Homo sapiens: one gene and its partners. The protein of the gene in region 1 interacts with the protein of each later gene in a biochemical or structural test. Each region holds a gene or a part of one and is shown in the gene's direction. Other genes may lie near its edges.

Region 1 (4,428 bases):
ATTGGACTTGGAGGGGAATACAGAGGGCATGGAAGTGGCGAGGCTGGCCTGTTGGCGAGGGTGTCCTGGTGGTGGGGCGGGCTGAGTCAGGGAAGGACTCTGAAGGTCCCAAGCAGCTGCTGAGGCCCCCAAGGAAGTGGTTCCAACCTTGGACCCCTAGGGGTCTGGATTTGCTGGTTAACAAGATAACCTGAGGGCAGGACCCCATAGGGGAATGCTACCTCCTGCCCTTCCACCTGCCCTGGTGTTCACGGTGGCCTGGTCCCTCCTTGCCGAGAGAGTGTCCTGGGTCAGGGACGCAGAGGACGCTCACAGACTCCAGCCCTTTGTTACCGAGAGGACACTTGGCAAGGTCCAGCGATGGTCCGGAGTCCACACACAGACTGGCGGCAGGGCAGGAGGGGGACAGTTCTGTTGTGCTTGGTTGGACAGTAAGAGGGTCTTGGCCAGTCCAGGGTGGGGGGCGGCAAACTCCATAAAGAACCAGAGGGTCTGGGCCCCGGCCACAGAGTCATCTGCCCAGCTCCTCTGCTGCTGGCCAGTGGGAGTGGCACGAGGTGGGGCTTTGTGCCAGTAAAACCACAGGCTGGATTTGCCTGCGGGCCATGGTCCCTGTCTAGGGCAGCAATTCTCAACCTTCTTGCTCTCAGGACCCCAAAGAGCTTTCATTGTATCTATTGATTTTTACCACATTAGCAATTAAAACTGAGAAATGGGCCGGGCACGGTGGCTCACGCCTGTAATCCCAGCACTTTGGGAGGCCGAGGCGGGTGGATCACCTGAGATCAGGAGTTCAAGACCAGCCTGGCCAACATGGTGAAACCTTGTCTACTAAAAATACAAAAAATTAGCCAGGCACAGTGGTGTGCACTGGTAGTCCCAGTTACTCGGGAGGCTGAGGCAGGAAAATCGCTTGAACCCAGGAGGCGGACGTTGCGGTGAGCCGAGATCGCGCCGCTGATTCCAGCCTGGGCGACAAGAGTGAGACTCCATCTCACACAAAAAAAAAATAACAAAAAAACTCAGAAATGCTAAGTGTACTTATTTGTTGAAGAAACTTGTTACATATTACTAACATCTTTTTTTTTTATGAGAAATACTTTTCCCATAACCAAAAAATTCAGTGAGCAGAATGGCCTTGCTTGAGGTTTTTGCAAATCTCTCGGGTGTCTGGCTTAGTGGGAGGCAGCTGGGCCCTCATACCTGCCTCCGCACTTCAGCTGTTTGACATAAACCCAGCTTCGTGTGAGTGAAAGGGAAGGGCCTGGGGACCCTCAGAGGTTCTCGGACCACACTTTGAGAACTCCTCGTCTGGAAGACAGGCCTGGGGATGCCATGTGGGGTGAGGGCTTACGGGCTTGGTGTCGCTTTGTGGAGAACCGCTGGTGTCTGAAGCGGGTGTCAGCCCCACTGCACCTTGGTGCTTCTGGGCTGTCCTGATGCCGAGGCCCACTTCCCAGCCATGCTGACTTTGCCTCTTTCCCCTCCCAGCAGAAAAATGGCTACAAACTTCCTAGCACATGAGAAGATCTGGTTCGACAAGTTCAAATATGACGACGCAGAAAGGAGATTCTACGAGCAGATGAACGGGCCTGTGGCAGGTGCCTCCCGCCAGGTGAGAGCTGCACGTGGGGCGGCTGGGCGGCTCTGCTGCCCGACAGGAGTGGCCGGGGCACACAAAGCGGATTCAGCCAGGCCAGGAAGGCAGAGGCACCCTGGCCCAGTGGCTCTGCTGTGGGTGCTGGGAGTGGGGTCTCGGGGCAGGCGGCCTTGGCCGGGCCCCCGGGCCGGGTCTGCTCAGGGCCCTCCTGCCGGCGCCTGTGCACTTGGTGTGGGGCCAGGCCTGGCACTCCTTCCCCCGCAGACATGGGCGCCTTTGCCTGTCGTCACAGCCTCAGGCATCTCCCGCTTTTCTGGCCCGCCAAGCTCTCGTTCTGTGCAGTACTTTCTTGCTGTCTCTATGTGAGGGTTCATGGGGTTTTTTGGTTTGTTTTTTAATTAAATTCTTTTTTAATAATAAAAAAAAGACTGGTTCTTTCTGCACTGTCTGCAGGAGAACGGCGCCAGCGTGATCCTCCGTGACATTGCGAGAGCCAGAGAGAACATCCAGAAATCCCTGGCTGGAGTGAGTACCCGCGGCCCACGGACCTGCGGGCTCCTGCTCGGCCAAGCAGCATGTCTGATTTTTCCTGATGCTGCTGGTTGTTTTGGCTTCACAGCAGAGTCAGGGCAGGGTGCACGGCGCTGTGCTCCTTGGGACGTGTGGCTCTGTGACCTCCATGCCCGGACTGCCACGGACAGTGTTCTTATTCTCGCGTCCCTTCCGTGCTTACCTCGTCTGCCGGCTGGCGGTCACACTGGCCGCTCCTGTGGGGCCGGCTGGGAGCTGAGTGGTGCCATTTGCAGGGTGTCCTGTGGGCACCTGGCATGAGAGCCTGTGCCTCCCTGCTTGCTCCCTGTGGCAGGACTGTGTGTCTGCTGGGCCTTCCCACATTCCCTCTTAGATCTTGCCTCACTGGGGAGAGAGAAGTGGTGGTTCTGCAAGGCGCAAGGAGTTCAGAGCCTAGAGTTGGCACCGTCTTGAGTTGGAGACCCAGAAGGAGCCCTGTATCCCTGCTTGGCCTCCAGGCCCCGGGCCAAGATCAGGAGTTGGAGGCAGTAGCTGTGGCCTGACAGGCTGGCTGGGGAAGGGGTGTCCTCCGGGAGGTGGCAGCCCTGGTGTTCCCGAGGAGTTGGGACTGCGTTCTCCCCGGGACGGGGTGGTGTCCTGGCCCCAAGAACGGGGTCAGTGTTTCTGTGGCTGCTGCTATGGCTTTCCACAGCCTCACGCTGGAAACAGTACATCTGTATCATGCCGGGTTTCCAGGCCAGAAATCTGAAATGTGTCTCACGAGGCTGTCCCCAGTGTCAGCAAGGTCGCCATCCTTCCAAAGGCTCAGGAGGAGTCTGTTCCTTTGCCTCTCCCAGATTCTGGTGGATGCCCACGTTGCTTGTTTCAAGGTGCTCAGCAGGCAGCCTCATCCCCGCCCCGCCTCCACTTCCATCTCGCGCCTCTCTCGAACCTCCTGCCTCGCTCTGTCACTTACGTGGTTCTTGTACTTGCTTTGGGCCCCCAGGATCCCAGGTCCAGGATGTTCCCACCTCAAAATCCTGAATTTAATCGTGTTTGCCAATTCTTCTTTTTGCCATGTAAGGTAGTGGATTTGCAGGCTCTGGGGGTTGGGACGTGGGCGCCGGAGATTCTCATTGTCTCATTTGTAAGGTGCATTGCTCCTCACCAACATCTGCAGAAGCCTGGGTCCCCCACAGTGTCCCTCCAAAGTCCAGAATCCCATCCAATCAGGCATGGGGGATTGCGTGGTCCATCCTGAGGCAAAATTCCTCTCCATCTGTGGACCAGTGAAACTGGAAAGCAAGTTATCTGCTCCCAAAATACAATTGTGGGACAGGCATTCCCTTTCAAAATGGGAAAAAGAAGAAGGAAACAGGGCGTCACTAGTCCCAGGCAGTTTCACAGTCCAGCCCGGCGGGTCACGTGAGGTTTGAAGGGAGCGCTCCTGTGTGGCCCATGGTCCCCCCCGCTGTCATTTTTTAACATCCCTATTCCTACCAACAGCATGTTCGTGGCAGTTTAGGTTGTTCTAGAAGATGACGTGTTTTCTCTGCCCTGCTCCTCACCTCCTCTGAGTCCTCACCGAGGGCCTTAGCATCTGAATTCTGCCAACAGGGTGCTCAAGACAGGCTAGGGTTTTTCTTTTGGAGGGGGTGGGTGAGTTGTGGACAGAGTCTTGCTCTGTCGCCCAGGCTGGAGTACAGTGGCATGATCCTGGCTCACTGCAACCTCAGCCTCTGGGGTTCAAGCGATTCTCCTGTGTCAGCCTCCCGAGTAGCTGAGACTGCAGGTGTCTGCCACCAAGCCCAGCTGACATTTTTTTTTCTTTTTTTTTTTTTTTTTAGTAGCGGCAGGGTTTCGCCATGTTGGCCAGGCTGGTCTTGAACTCCTGACCTTATGATCTGCCCACCTCGGCCTCTCAAAGTGCTGGGATTACAGGCGTGAGCCACTGTGCCCGGCCCAGTCTAGGGGTTTTCTGTCACGCTCCTCAAAATTCTTCCCGCCTCACCACTGCCCAACTCCAAAGCCATCTCCACATTGTTAGGCATTCCAGCAGCACCCCACTTCCTGGGCCAGGATCTGTGTTGGTTTCCACTTGATGTTGCTGTAACGTTGCCACACTTCCGTGGCTTAAAACAGCACAAGTTCCTCACCTTACAGTTCCGGGGGCCAGAAGTCTGAGATCATCTTATGGGGCAAAATCAAGGCTGTGGTCCTTCTGGTGTCTCTGCGGGGAGAATCCGCTTCCTTGTCTCTTCTGGCTGCTGGAAGCTGCTCACGGTCCTTGGCCCAAGGCTCCCAGGCAGCTGTCTTGT
Region 2 (4,428 bases), on another chromosome or scaffold:
CCAGGGCGGCACTGTCTAACCTGCCAGGGCAGTACTGTCTGTTTGTTTGGTCTTTGATTCAAAAGAATTGCATTTATGGGCTTGTTTATAAATTCACTAAACATTTATTGAATTTTATTGTATTCTAGCCCTGTCCTCAGTGCTTAGGATATTGAGAGGACTAAAATTCAGTCTCTACTTCTTAACTCAGGTTATGAATCAGAATAACCTTGGGAGTTTTCTGAGCATATTCTTATTTTTGGCTTTGCCCATGGAGGTTCTTATTAAGTAGGTATGAGATAGGTCCTAGGGAAATGTCTATTTTAAAAGTTCCACAAGTGATTCTGATGGGCAAGCCTAGCTTGAAAACCATGAAAACCACCATATGACCAACCTGTTCTGTATTGATACTAAGAGTAATGCCAAGAGGTGATATGAGAAAGCATATTTTTCTTCCTGATAACTCTCTTTGATGGGTGGTATATATCCTGAGAGTATCTGGTTTCATTTAATTACATTTGGATTTCAGCTATAGTATTTGCAACTCTAATTTTAAACATACGAACTTGGTGTAATAAGTTCTATGGATTTACCTACCTGCTTTGTAAATAGTAGTGTACATTTTGGTTTTTAAGCTTCAGAAGTGCCCCTAACATAGTATTTCAGAATATATGATATGAGAATATGTGATAAGAGCATATGATTCTTGCTTTGTTATTCAGGCTGGTCTTGAACTCCTGGCCTCAAGTGATCGGCCTGCCTTGGCTTCCCAAGGTGCTAGGATTACAGCGTGAGCTGCTATACCTGGCCAAGGATACACAGTTTTAAAATTTGACACTATAGGCCAGGCACGGTGGCTCACACCTGTAATCCCAGCACTTTGGGAGGCTGAGGTGGGTGGATCACCTGAGGTCAGGAGTTTGAGACCAGCCTGTCCGACATGGTGAAACCCCATCTCTACTAAAAATACAAAAATCATCCGGGTGTGGTGGCATGTGCCTGTAATCCCAGCTACTCTGGAGGCTGAGGCAGGAGAATCGGCTCGAACCCTGGAGGCAGAGGTTGCAGTGAGCCGAGATCGCGCCACTGTACTCCAGCCTGGGCGATAGAGCAAGACTCCGTCTTAAAAAAAAAAAAAAAATGACACTCTAGATGCTAAATTAAAGTATAGTTCTTCTTCCCCAGATAATCTGATAGTGGAGGAAGCAGTGCAGGAGCTGAACTCTTTCCTCGCACAGGAGAATATGAGGCTACAGGAATTGACAGATCTTCTTCAGGAAAAGCATCGCACCATGTCTCAGGAGGTACTTAACCAAAAAGGAGAGATGGCTGTGTCTAGTGGGCTGTGGCAGATGTTGACTTACAATTCTGAGCACCTCAAAGATTACCTTACTCTAGAAGGCCTATCATATCATAGGGGATTTTGTAAAACACAACACAACTCCAAACCTCCAAATAATGAATTACCCTAAATATAAAAGACTGTATAGTGTTATTGAGGAATGGCGTGGTAGAAATTCCACAGGGAATGGGGAAGTAGAAACTACTGTATTGATGATGTCCTAGGAATTTGAGGAATGTCAATTTTCAGTCTAAACTTGGGTGCAAATAATGCCATGATTAAACCATGCCAAGATTTGGACATTTATTTATTTACACAAAATGATCAAGATAAAGTGATGATAGGCCTTAAATGACTTTTCTGATACTTCTGATGATCATTTTGATTTAGTTCAAAATATATTCTACTGGAATTTGCCCCACCTTAGTTTGGCCACTGAATTCTTATGCTAATTAGTAATTTAGTAGTTGCCATTTACTTAGTGCCTAGAATTTAAGCACTTTATGAATGTTATCTCTAATGGCAAAACAACTCCCATTTTATTGCCAAAGAAACAAATTCAAAGAGGTTAGTGATTATTCTGAGGGCACATAGCTAGAAAGTGATTGAGCTGTGTTGTGACTGTAGGTCTGTTTGACTTCAAAGCTCTTGTTCTTCATATGCCTTTGTTTACTAAACCCCAGTGTTAAGGTCCATGCTGGCCTGGTTGCATGAATATCATCTGGGGAATTTATTAATTCATATGGATTATCCTGGACCTTCAAAGGGGTTAGAATGTAGTAGCCCTTATAAATAAACTGGAGTCTAGTAAGAAAATAGAATATTTTTATCATGTTTTAAGACATTGACTAGGTGCTACCAAGATGGAGAGGTCTTCCTTTTCTAGCCCTTTGACAAATCTCAGATAGTATTACTAACCTGGAGGGCAGTTGTTTGCTAAACTGTGATGTCCTTGTTGGCTCTCATGGCTGGCTGTTGATGCTGCCTGTCAGCTGGGTTAATTGTCTACTGGGATACCTGCAGTTTGCCTCTCCATCATGGTAGTCTCAGGATGGTTGGAATTTTTACATGTTGGCTGACTTCTTCCAGTGAGCATCCCAAGATCACCAGGTAGAACCTTCATGGCCTTTCTGATATAGCCTCAAAATTGTGTAGTGACATTTCCATTGGGTCTCTAAAGTTGACCCAGATTCAAGAGGAGGGAACAAAGATCCCACCTCTTGTTCAGAGGACTTTCAAAGGATTTTTGTGTCATGTTTTAAAACCTAGCACAAAGGGTATATATAGATTAATGTGAACTTGTAATAGTTTAGTAGTTAAAATACTAAATAGTGTTAGCTGGTGTATAGCTCCTAAATAGAGTATCTGACTTTAGATTATAGTATAATCTATACTGTATTGTATCTGACTCTAGATTGCTCTGGGGTGAGCTTAAAAAAGAGTATGGAAGTTTTCTTTTGTTGTGAATGAATGGATTACCTTTTGTGGGACTGTGGAGAGAAATTTGGGGGTAAAAATGGTTTTTTTGAAAAAATATTTATCTTACAAAACAAAAGATACTATTTATTATCTCTTAAAAAATTACAAAATTTTTATGAGTTTGTGGTCTGTCCAGAGAAATGGTGCTTTTCAGAGGTAGAAAAATTGTTGAATCTTAGGTGGTCTTTTCTTTGTGTGAGAGTTCTTATAGACTTTAGACTTAAAGTTTGCATGATTATAACTGACACAGAATTGTTGGAGGAATCCGTGATTTCATTTTTGTAATCATGCATTGGGAAGAGGGTGAAGCATCTTCTATTTGCCTCTTTTCTATAATTACTCATAAGCAAGGGTTAATATTATGGAATTTGGTCTTTTTTTGCTATATGTTTCTGAATGTTTGTCTTTGGGATGTAGTTCTCCAAGTTGCAGAGTAAAGTGGAGACAGCCGAATCACGAGTGTCTGTCCTGGAGTCCATGATTGATGACCTGCAGTGGGATATTGACAAAATTCGAAAGAGGGAACAGCGACTCAACCGACACTTAGCAGAAGTCCTAGAACGGGTCAGTGCTGTTTTATGGCTTGGAGACTAGAATCATTTTAAGGAGTGTTCTCAGGAAGACTCACCTTGGGGCATGGTATTTGAGGAAAAAATCTCATCCTTTGAAGGTACATTGGTTATAGACTGAAATCTTAAGAGTCTCTCACTAAAGAATCTTTGTGTTCTCTGTAGGTGAATTCCAAAGGTTATAAGGTGTATGGAGCGGGGAGCAGTCTGTATGGCGGCACAATCACTATCAATGCTCGGAAGGTAAAATCAGTGACTCAGGACATGTTTTGGACTGTATGTCAGCTTTCATGCTTAGGTACTTAGGACTGTGTTCACAAGTGACATCATGGGGTTTTGCTGGAATAGCGAATCAGTGAAGAAAGGAAGCTTAGAAATGATTTAAGAAGAATACTTATTTATTCTCTATTTTTCTGCTTCTCTGCAGTTTGAGGAAATGAATGCAGAGCTTGAGGAGAACAAAGAGTTGGCTCAGAACCGTCTCTGTGAGCTGGAGAAACTTCGGCAAGACTTTGAGGAGGTCACTACACAAAATGAAAAGCTGAAGGTAGGAACGCATCCCTGAAGGGCAGTAAAATCAGACGTTCTGCTGATCAACTCACGTATATACATAGTTGTGAATCTGCGTATTCATGAGGGATAAGAAAAATGTAGACAAAATCCAACATCCTTTTATGATAAAACTCTTAACAAATTAGGTGTAAAGAAGTGTACCTCAACATAATAAAGGCCATATAAAACAAGCCCACAGCCAACATTATACCCAATGGCGAAAAGTTGAAAGCTTTTCCTTTAAGATCAGGAACAGGATAAAGATGCTCGCTGTCATTACTTTTGTCCTAGCCAGAGTAATTAGGCAAGGATAAGAAATAAAGGCCTCTTAATCAGAAAGGAAGAGGTAAAGTTGTTTCTGTTTATAGATGACATGACTTTATATATAGAAAACCTTACAGGCTCCACGAAAAAACTGTTAGAACTATAAATGAATTCAGTAAAGTTGCAGGCTACAGAATCAACATACAAAAACAATTGTGTGTCTATATACCAACAACAAACTCT
Region 3 (4,428 bases), on another chromosome or scaffold:
TCCATCAGCTAGCTGAAAGTAAGGTTCTTCAGTATTGAGGGATTTGCATTGTTGACTTGAATACACTTTTAGGGAGTATAGGTATCAGTTTCTCATGTCTCCTTGCCTTCATTTGTTCAGAGTAACAAGGTAAAGTATGTGTTTTCCTCTCATATTCTATAGGTGTTAGTGGTCTGTATGACTTTGGGCCAGTTGGCTGTGCTTTGAAGAACAATATTATTCAGACCTGGAGGCAGCACTTTATCCAAGAGGAACAGATCCTGGAGATCGATTGCACCATGCTCACCCCTGAGCCAGTTTTAAAGTGAGATCTTACTTTGGAGTGGGGGTATCCTACTTTAAATAAAATAACTTATTAAATTATTTAATATACTTATCTAAATAACTTCCTGATTATAAAGAACTACTCATTTCATGTAGAAAATCTGAAAAATATGGAAAAGCAAAGAAATGTATACCTTCTGCTCACAGATAGCTATGTTAAGATGATTGTGTTTGTCCTTCCTGTTTTTTCTGTACGTCCCTATGTATTTCAGTGTTAGCAGTACACTGCTTATTTTCATGTAATATTGATGAACATATACTCATATCATTAACTATTCATCTAAAGCATTTTTAATGATAGCATAGTATTCTGTTTTATGGAAGTGCCATAATATGTTAGTTTGTGCCATATTGAAAGCATTAAAGTGTTTCTCATTTTTGACTGCACCGAATATCTTGATAGATGGATTTTTGGGTATATCCTTGATTATTTCCTTAATACAAGTTCTGAGCAAAGGTATACTTGTAGAGATTTTCAGTTAAATACTATTTGTTTTAAAGTTTCAATGCAGAAACTTAGATTATTCCTACCAACGTTATTGAAAGTAGGGCAGAATTTCCTTTTTTTGTGTGTGTGAGATGGAGTCTTGCTCTGTCGCCCAAGCTGGAATGCAGTGGCTTGATCTCGGCTCACTGCAAGCTCTGCCTCCCAGGTTCACGCCATTCTCCTGCCTCAGCCTCCCAAGTAGCTGGGACTACAGGCACCCACCACCACGTCTGGCTAATTTTTTTTTTGTATTTTTAGTACAGACGGGGTTTCACCATGTTAGCCAGGGTGGTCTCGATCTCCTGACCTCGTGATCCGCCCGCCTCGGCCTCCCAAAGTAGGGCAGAATTTCAGAATGTGAAACTGAAAGGAATTCTTTTATTTATTTATTTATTTTTTGAGATGGAGTCTCGCTCTGTCCCCCAGGCTGGAGTGCAGTGGGGCGATCTCTGCTCACTGCAAGCTCCGCCTCTCGGGTTCACGCCATTCTCTTGCCTCAGCCTCCAGAGCAGCTGGGACTACAGGCACCTGCCACCGTGCCTGGCTAATTTTTTTGTATTTTTAGTAGAGACGGGGTTTCACCATGGTCTCGATCTCCTGACCTCGTGATCCGCCTGCCTCGGCCTCCCAAAGTGCTGGGATTACAGGCGTGAGCCACTGCGCCCGGCCTGAAAGAGGAATTCTTGCCATTTTGTAACTCGTCATTATTCATTTAAGGTTGACTGGTGGAGAGCTAATTTTTACTATTGGCATCCGTTAGGTTCTCTTAATAATTTCAGCCAATGAAGAGGAGGAATTCTGAATGATGGCTCTATAAGATCAGGACTACCTATCATTTTAGCTACTTGTTCCACCAATAGGAACTTTGTAGAGATAATACCAATGTCAGTACAGGTTTCAGTGGCAGAAAACACTTCCCTTAAGGTTCAATGTCTATACTGAGCTGCCATGAATTCTTAACTAGTCAAATTCCCAGTGATTTTGGCCTTTGCTTAGATCACTAATAATAATGGCATAGGCATGGATTAATTGATCCTGAAGAATAGTACAGACTTTATGACAACTTGTAGAAAAGAATTGTCTTTTTATTGTCTAGTTAATGTCTTCTTTCTTATGGGAAGGAAGAATGTGGGAGAGGGTGAGAAATAGATTTGAGGAAGAATTTTCTCTGGCATCCATTACTGTCATGGATACATCATTACTATAGATATGGGAGCTTCCATCTTTGAGATGGATATAAATATTGATGGGGAATTATCTTATAAGGTAATATCTATGTGTAATTTGTATGAGAATGACAAATTGGGTTGGCATTTGTTAATTTAGGACCTCTGGCCATGTAGACAAATTTGCTGACTTCATGGTGAAAGACGTAAAAAATGGAGAATGTTTTCGTGCTGACCATCTATTAAAAGGTGAGGTTCTTCATCTCCTTCAGGTAGGATTGATCAAAATAAAAGGTTTAAACTTTCTCTCAGATGTCTTTCATTAAATTTTTTATTGAGGCATAACATTCAAAGAGCAAAGTGCACAGATCTTAAGTATATAGATCAAGTCCTTTATTTTTTAAAAAAGTTATATGTAGATAATTAGTTATATACAGATAATTTTTCTAATTAGCAAATGAATCAAGACAATACCATGACTGCTGTTGTAAAATCAACTGTGGGATTCATGTAAATTAAGAACTTTATGCTTGGATTTACTTTTTAATTGTCTAGCATTGAAACTGAAAAGTGCATTGTCCTTTTTCCCATTGATTGATATATGTCAACACTGTTCTTACAGCTCATTTACAGAAATTGATGTCTGATAAGAAGTGTTCTGTCGAAAAGAAATCAGAAATGGAAAGTGTTTTGGCCCAGGTGAGTACTCTAGAGATGTTATCAGAGTAACCTAGGTGGTCGCTGTCCTTCTTTCAGTGTTTAATGACTGTTGCATTTCCCATTATGCTGACCCTGGCCACATTGTAATGAAGCAGAGGTTAATTCTGTCCTGTATAGCGTCTCTTTTTTTGCATTTTTATTTTCTTCTCTCTTTTGTGACTAACCCTTTATTTCAGCCCAAACTAACAAGTCCGTGTTAATAGGCATTCAATTTGTCTGACCTTGGAAACTACTTTTCTGGATTTAATAGCTAAAACCACAGGAGTGACTGATGATGGGTAGTGTTCAGCACTGGTGTGGAGACTTCGGGGCAGATAACTTGATGAGCACTTTCTCACTGGCTACTTGATCTGCCTCTGCTTGGACCCTGATTTCATGCTATTATTCTTAGAACCTCATGAGCAGGTCCTGACTTTTCTGTCCTTGCTTTTCTCAGTTTGCCTATAGGCCTAAAGTTTTATAATTTGTATAATATTTAAGCTGACAAATTTTAGAGAAGACAAAAAAGAGACCACAGAGATAATTTATTCTGACCTTTTACCAATTGCAGGAATACTTTCTATATTAGAAGTAGTTCTTATCCTTTTGTTGGGTCACAGACCACCCTAAGAATGTGATCAAAACTGCACGTCTCCCTGGGAAGATGCATGTGCTCATGTATATATGTTGCTGGTGTCTCACCTCATCTGTTGGCTATTCCGTTTAGGCAAAGTACATTTCTCCAACACCATGTTTAGTCATGAGGTCTACTGAGGCTCACCTCTTAAATTTTATTTACTTCCTTGGGCAAAAAACAAAAAACCAATACTGTGATTATACCTATTTTCTTTACACCGATCTCTCTCTCTCTCTCTGCCTGAATATAGAACTCCCTAATATGTTGTTTTTCATGGGAATTACTGGATACTTTTCCACTGTTGTCCTAATTTTTTTTTTAGCATGCTTTTTTTCTCTGTGATAGTTAACTTTCCAACATAGCTAAAATAATTTCTCCTTCTTCATTTACATTGAAAACTTTCTTAATTTGGCTGTTGAATCATCTGCTGATTTATTTTGATACTTGTGGAGTGTAATTTTATCCCTTGCTTGAAGCTCATTGTTTTAGTAATTACTCATGGTTTAGAAAATTATTTCTTACATTTTGATACTGTTGAAGCCACACGTTCATCTCATTTTCTTATCCAAAGGCATGCCCTTTATTAGAAAAAATGGAAAATGCCTCTAAGTATCCCTAAAATTTTCCATTCAGAATTTTAGATTTACTGAGGTTTTGTGTATATGTTTTTGATCTTAACAGTATTATTCATTTCCAAGTACGTTGTCAGAGTTGGGAAGTAACTAGTTGATTTGACAAGTCAATTTATTGTTTGAGCATTGGCCTTCTCTCTTATTTCAGATCTGTGTTCTAGGAGAGCAATTTGTTTTTTGACTTGCCATATCAGATGCATGTACAGCTGTCAATATAATCTTCAATGAAAAGTAAGGGACCCATGGGAAATGGTGTAGCACTCAGAAATGGCCCTGGTGGATTCACTGGCTGAAAGCCCATCTGTTGCTTAAGCACAGAGTAGCGTTTTCTGCACCTTAGTGTCTGACTCCTTTTCAGCTTTATGAAGCATCATTGTTTCTTTAAAAGGCCCTGATTCACCTTCTGTGGTAGGAAGACCTCTACTCCTATTATGTGGATTTAACAGCTCAGAACGAATTCTTTTGTTTCTCTTCTCTGTCTGT
Region 4 (4,428 bases), on another chromosome or scaffold:
CATGGGAGAACATGTATGGGGAAGAGCAGAGGGAAAAGGAGATGCCTCCATCTATCCATGATAGAGTGGAAGTGGAAACCCTAGAAAGGCCTAAGGAGGTTAGAACTTGCTAGAGACCCACTCTGTGGCTTTTAATACTACCTCCTACCGCCAGTCTGACAGCCTTTAAGGCCTGGGATTTGACAGTATTTCCATGTTACTCACTCTGCTTCTCTATGTTAGTTCAGTTGAACAATCTGAAAAAGAAAGCTTTTTTTTGCCTTTTGAAAAGACTTAAATTACTCATGGACCCATTCTACTCTAAGCTAACCAGTAACCGTATAGATTTAAGAAAGAAGGTTAAATAGGCAGTATGACAGTTATAGCAATATTTTATTTTTAGTACTGCTCTCACAGGGTACTCCAAAAGGCCATAGGAACATCCTCCATATCTCTGGGTGGATAAAACAATGTTTTGGTTGGATTGCAGCCAGTAAGAGGCCTTTAAGCACAGAATTTGGTCTTCTATTACAATATTTCAGCAGTGTAGGAACAATTACATCATTTTAAAATAGTAGTATTTCTGACTTAGGAATGTTATTTTTATTATTGTTGTTAAATCCCTACCATAGGACCAAAGCTCTACAAAGAACCCAGTGCAAAATCCAATAAGCACATAATACAAAATGCTTTAGCTCATTGCTGTTTGGCTGGAAAAGTAAATGAAGGTCAGAAGAAAAAAATACTGGAGGTAAGCATGTTTGCATGAAAATTAAATTTGGCAAACTGTAGAAGTCTTTTATCCATTCAAGAGAATGTACTCTCATGGGCCTAGACTTTCAACAGCATGTAAAAAGATCTGTAGCTAGATGTTTTAATTATCAGATTTAGTTTATTTTCACATTAGGTTCTGGAAGCCTGCAGATTTTATTAAAGACTAGCAATAGGCTTTAAGATTTGTCATTGAAATAATGTTATAAAATGTGACTAAGAAACGTAACATAATTATATAAACTTTATTCAGCAAAATAAAGGGTTTTTATTCGTGTTGTTATGTTGTTTTTGTTTTTTATTTTAAAGGAAATGGAGAAATCAGATGCCAACAACTTCTTAATCTTGTTCCGGGATTCAGGATGCCAGTTCAGATCTTTATACACTTATTGCCCAGAAACTGAAGAAATCAATAAACTGACTGGGATAGGCCCTAAATCTATCACTAAAAAAATGATTGAAGGACTTTACAAATATAATTCTGACAGGAAACAGTTTAGCCACATACCCGCTAAAACTTTATCTGCCAGTGTTGATGCAATTACCATTCATAGCCATTTATGGCAGACCAAAAGACCAGTAACACCCAAAAAACTTTTACCCACTAAGGCATAGAAGTTGGGAAATACTTGCTTCAGAACATTCATGGTAAATTTGCACTTCATCTTTCCTGCCTATAGAAAATCTTTCTAATTGCCAACAAGACTTTTATTAATTAAAACTGGACATTAAGCTCTGTTGTCATGAACAACTGGAATGTAAACCACAGTATTTTGGAGTGCAGAACATTCTCAATTAAGTGATAAGTCCAAATGATGAAGGAAATGTTTTAATTCACAAATGGAGATTTGTATGTGTTATCAGGTTCACCTGCTTGATATTAGATACATTAAAGCACTGAATTTTCATGGATATTAGTTGGATTTATCATTGAAATATGGTTAAGATTACAAATTATGTGTTTTATTTGTTGCTTTTTTTTAACCTTTTAATGTATATTCTTGTCTTCAGATGGTTTGCTATTTTTCTCTCCTGGGGGTTTATTCTAAGATACCTTTGTATTTTATTTCATGTGGAGATCATGAAAGTAGGAAATATACCTTTAGAAGTAACTCGCACCTTTCTTATGATGTTAAGAGAAACACTAGTGTTTAGTTTTACAGTAACCCTCATATTTTAATGGTGTTACAGCATTTGCAAAAATTATTCTGCTAAGTATTTACAACTCTATTTATTATTCACTCAAGTATTAACATTCTCTATTAAATAAGAGGAGGTGTTGTAAAGAGCTGCTAGTAGGTTCGCTTTAAACCACATGAGCTTAACCAAGAATATGTTATGAGAAGTTGCTGATTAAATCAGTGCTGTTTTTACACCACTTCTGGCCAACTCAGAATAATTTAGATTGTTCTTTTAACAAAAAAGGCTTTCTATCTCTTTTAAAGTAAGTCACTTTATAAGTTGGCAGAAGTGAATGACACTTTGAGAGTAGTCTTTCAATCTGAAGATGTAAGACTTCCTGAAACAAGTTCTCAAGAAGTCTTTACATTATATTTATAACTCATATAAAAATTATATTTAGAATTTTTAAACATGTACAAAGGGCTACATTTTAATTTTAAAATAGCTTCACATTATTTTACTTATATTGGGTTTTTCTTCATTTTAATCCTTTTCAAGTGGAATGGCTTAGAATAAGTATACACTTGAAATCTCCTCTACATGATCTTTGTTCTTTAACAGTGTATACCAGAGGGTTAGTTGGGGAAAAACTTCATTCTCAGGAAAAGACTTGAATGATTATGTGACCCTGTTATATTTCAGTGTTGTGACAAATGTGTAAACTAGCGGGGGAAGACAGTATTGTATCATAAATGAGATGCGTAGTTTGTTTTCTTTCATGGGAAGTAGAGATAAAAATATATACATTTCTCTAATTGAGTTGTTTAGAGAAAGAACTAATGTCTCATATGATGTATTTACTTATTTTAAAAAAAAGAATAGGAATGAGATGTCCCTGAGCTGTACTTTTCTATTATTATAAGGCCTTTAGGCATCAGTGCATCTGGGTTATCAACATTTTCTCAAATGCTGTCAATATTTTACTGTAATTTATGTTCTTATATTTATGTATATTTGTTAAAACTGTAAAAAAATTTCACAGATTTTTTTCCAATACCTGTGCAAGATACATGTGTAGCTCAAAACTATTTGTGATCTACTGTTTGCATGTAAGAGACCAGGATATGTAACTCTTATATTTTAAGTGTATACATATTGTGTATATAACATATGGATATTAAAAATGGGGAATTGCACATTTTACCTTTTGGACAGTAATTTCTATCACAGTTAGAAGGAAATGATAGTCAAATACACGTTTAGATTAAAACTAGTTTAAAAAATTATAAATGAATCTAATCAAAATGTGAATAGTAGTCAAAAGGATAATTTAATAAGCATTTTACGTTACTAAATTTGTTCATTTCAATATTAACTAAATTTCCCTCATCAAAGCAATCTTTGTGATATTACTTCGCTATTAAATAAAGAAAATTGGATGCAAGACAATGGAGAAACTTTAAAACTAAACAGGACCACCCTTTATTCTTAAATTTGTGTGTGTCCAACAGTTGAATTGAATGTCTATAAGGTCTAAAGGTAGAATGTGAATATTGCCACAGAGTTCATTGCTCTCAGTATAAGATTTTACTTTATTAATGCAGAAGGAATATGGATATATTTCTTTAAGTCTGCAGATTTTTTTATTATGGTGCAGCTTTTTTTTAATTATGTTTTTAAAATTATACAGTTGAAAAATATGCCATTTCATAAAGTCTGAGGATTTTCGTCAACCTTACTGAAACACACTGGTGCTTTCATCATCAGAGGTCAAATTATTATGATAACTATTCCATTAAGTTTGCCAAACATTTGTCGTGGTTACCAGTGCAGCCTGTCAAATTCTGCTATTTGACACAGCTTTGGAAAGATTTAGTTCTTGGTTTTTCCGTTTTGTATTAGAATGACTGTTACAGTTTTATTTGGCTGTTTAAAGCCAAATTCAGCTATTTAATTATGGTTTCATGGACACTGTTGAGCAATGTACAGTGTATGGTGTGCTTACCTGTCCACTCTAGAGCATTGCTTACAGGTTTTTTGTTTTTTAAGATGCTGTGCTGTAAAATACTGTCATACTTGCTATTTCCTGGTACAGTGTAGTTTTTCCCCTTTCATTTGAATAAAAGCATGGCACCAAATGACTCCTTTTCTGTTTCTTGAATAAAATGTAGTTTTTGGTAAAATTATTTGAACTTGAGATAACTCATACAGTTTTTCTATCCCCTAACCTATGTTTAAATTTAATAACTTGAATATTCATAACAGGCAACTTGAAATAATTAGCCTTTTAAAAATACTAACTTAGGGCAATGTTAAAAAGTCGGTAACTTTCTATGCTTAGCACAGACGGTCTACATAGTATGATTTATAAATGTGCTTATCTTATGTTAATCTTGCTCATACTAATTCACTATCTTTTGGTGAATTGATAGTTATATTGTACCAGAACTAGTGCTCTATGTCTTTGAAACTGAATGGCCAGTGAACTCACTGATCTGGAGTAGCCATGAGAAGCTAGTTCTTGACCATTATTTTGTAAGTTTCACTTTGATTTTG

Evidence for each region.
Region 2: the proteins of EEF1D (region 1) and RNF20 form a complex in vitro, tested with the Homo sapiens proteins (one study listed by BioGRID).
Region 3: the proteins of EEF1D (region 1) and GARS1 form a complex in vitro, tested with the Homo sapiens proteins (one study listed by BioGRID).
Region 4: the proteins of EEF1D (region 1) and CAMSAP2 form a complex in vitro, tested with the Homo sapiens proteins (one study listed by BioGRID).

The regions. Positions count from the first base shown.
Region 1 is NC_000008.11:143,583,916-143,588,343, reverse strand, and holds part of EEF1D (elongation factor 1-delta), read left to right. Parts: intron 1-1,491; coding exon 1,492-1,615; intron 1,616-2,053; coding exon 2,054-2,125; intron 2,126-4,428.
Region 2 is NC_000009.12:101,543,603-101,548,030, forward strand, and holds part of RNF20 (E3 ubiquitin-protein ligase BRE1A), read left to right. Parts: intron 1-1,164; coding exon 1,165-1,283; intron 1,284-3,217; coding exon 3,218-3,364; intron 3,365-3,534; coding exon 3,535-3,612; intron 3,613-3,796; coding exon 3,797-3,916; intron 3,917-4,428. UniProt on the Homo sapiens protein: Component of the RNF20/40 E3 ubiquitin-protein ligase complex that mediates monoubiquitination of 'Lys-120' of histone H2B (H2BK120ub1).
Region 3 is NC_000007.14:30,600,897-30,605,324, forward strand, and holds part of GARS1 (glycine--tRNA ligase isoform 1 precursor), read left to right. Parts: intron 1-162; coding exon 163-304; intron 305-2,137; coding exon 2,138-2,226; intron 2,227-2,599; coding exon 2,600-2,676; intron 2,677-4,428. UniProt on the Homo sapiens protein: Catalyzes the ATP-dependent ligation of glycine to the 3'-end of its cognate tRNA, via the formation of an aminoacyl-adenylate intermediate (Gly-AMP).
Region 4 is NC_000001.11:200,856,695-200,861,122, forward strand, and holds the end of CAMSAP2 (calmodulin-regulated spectrin-associated protein 2), read left to right. Parts: intron 1-611; coding exon 612-730; intron 731-1,059; coding exon 1,060-1,365; 3' UTR 1,366-4,010; downstream 4,011-4,428. UniProt on the Homo sapiens protein: Key microtubule-organizing protein that specifically binds the minus-end of non-centrosomal microtubules and regulates their dynamics and organization.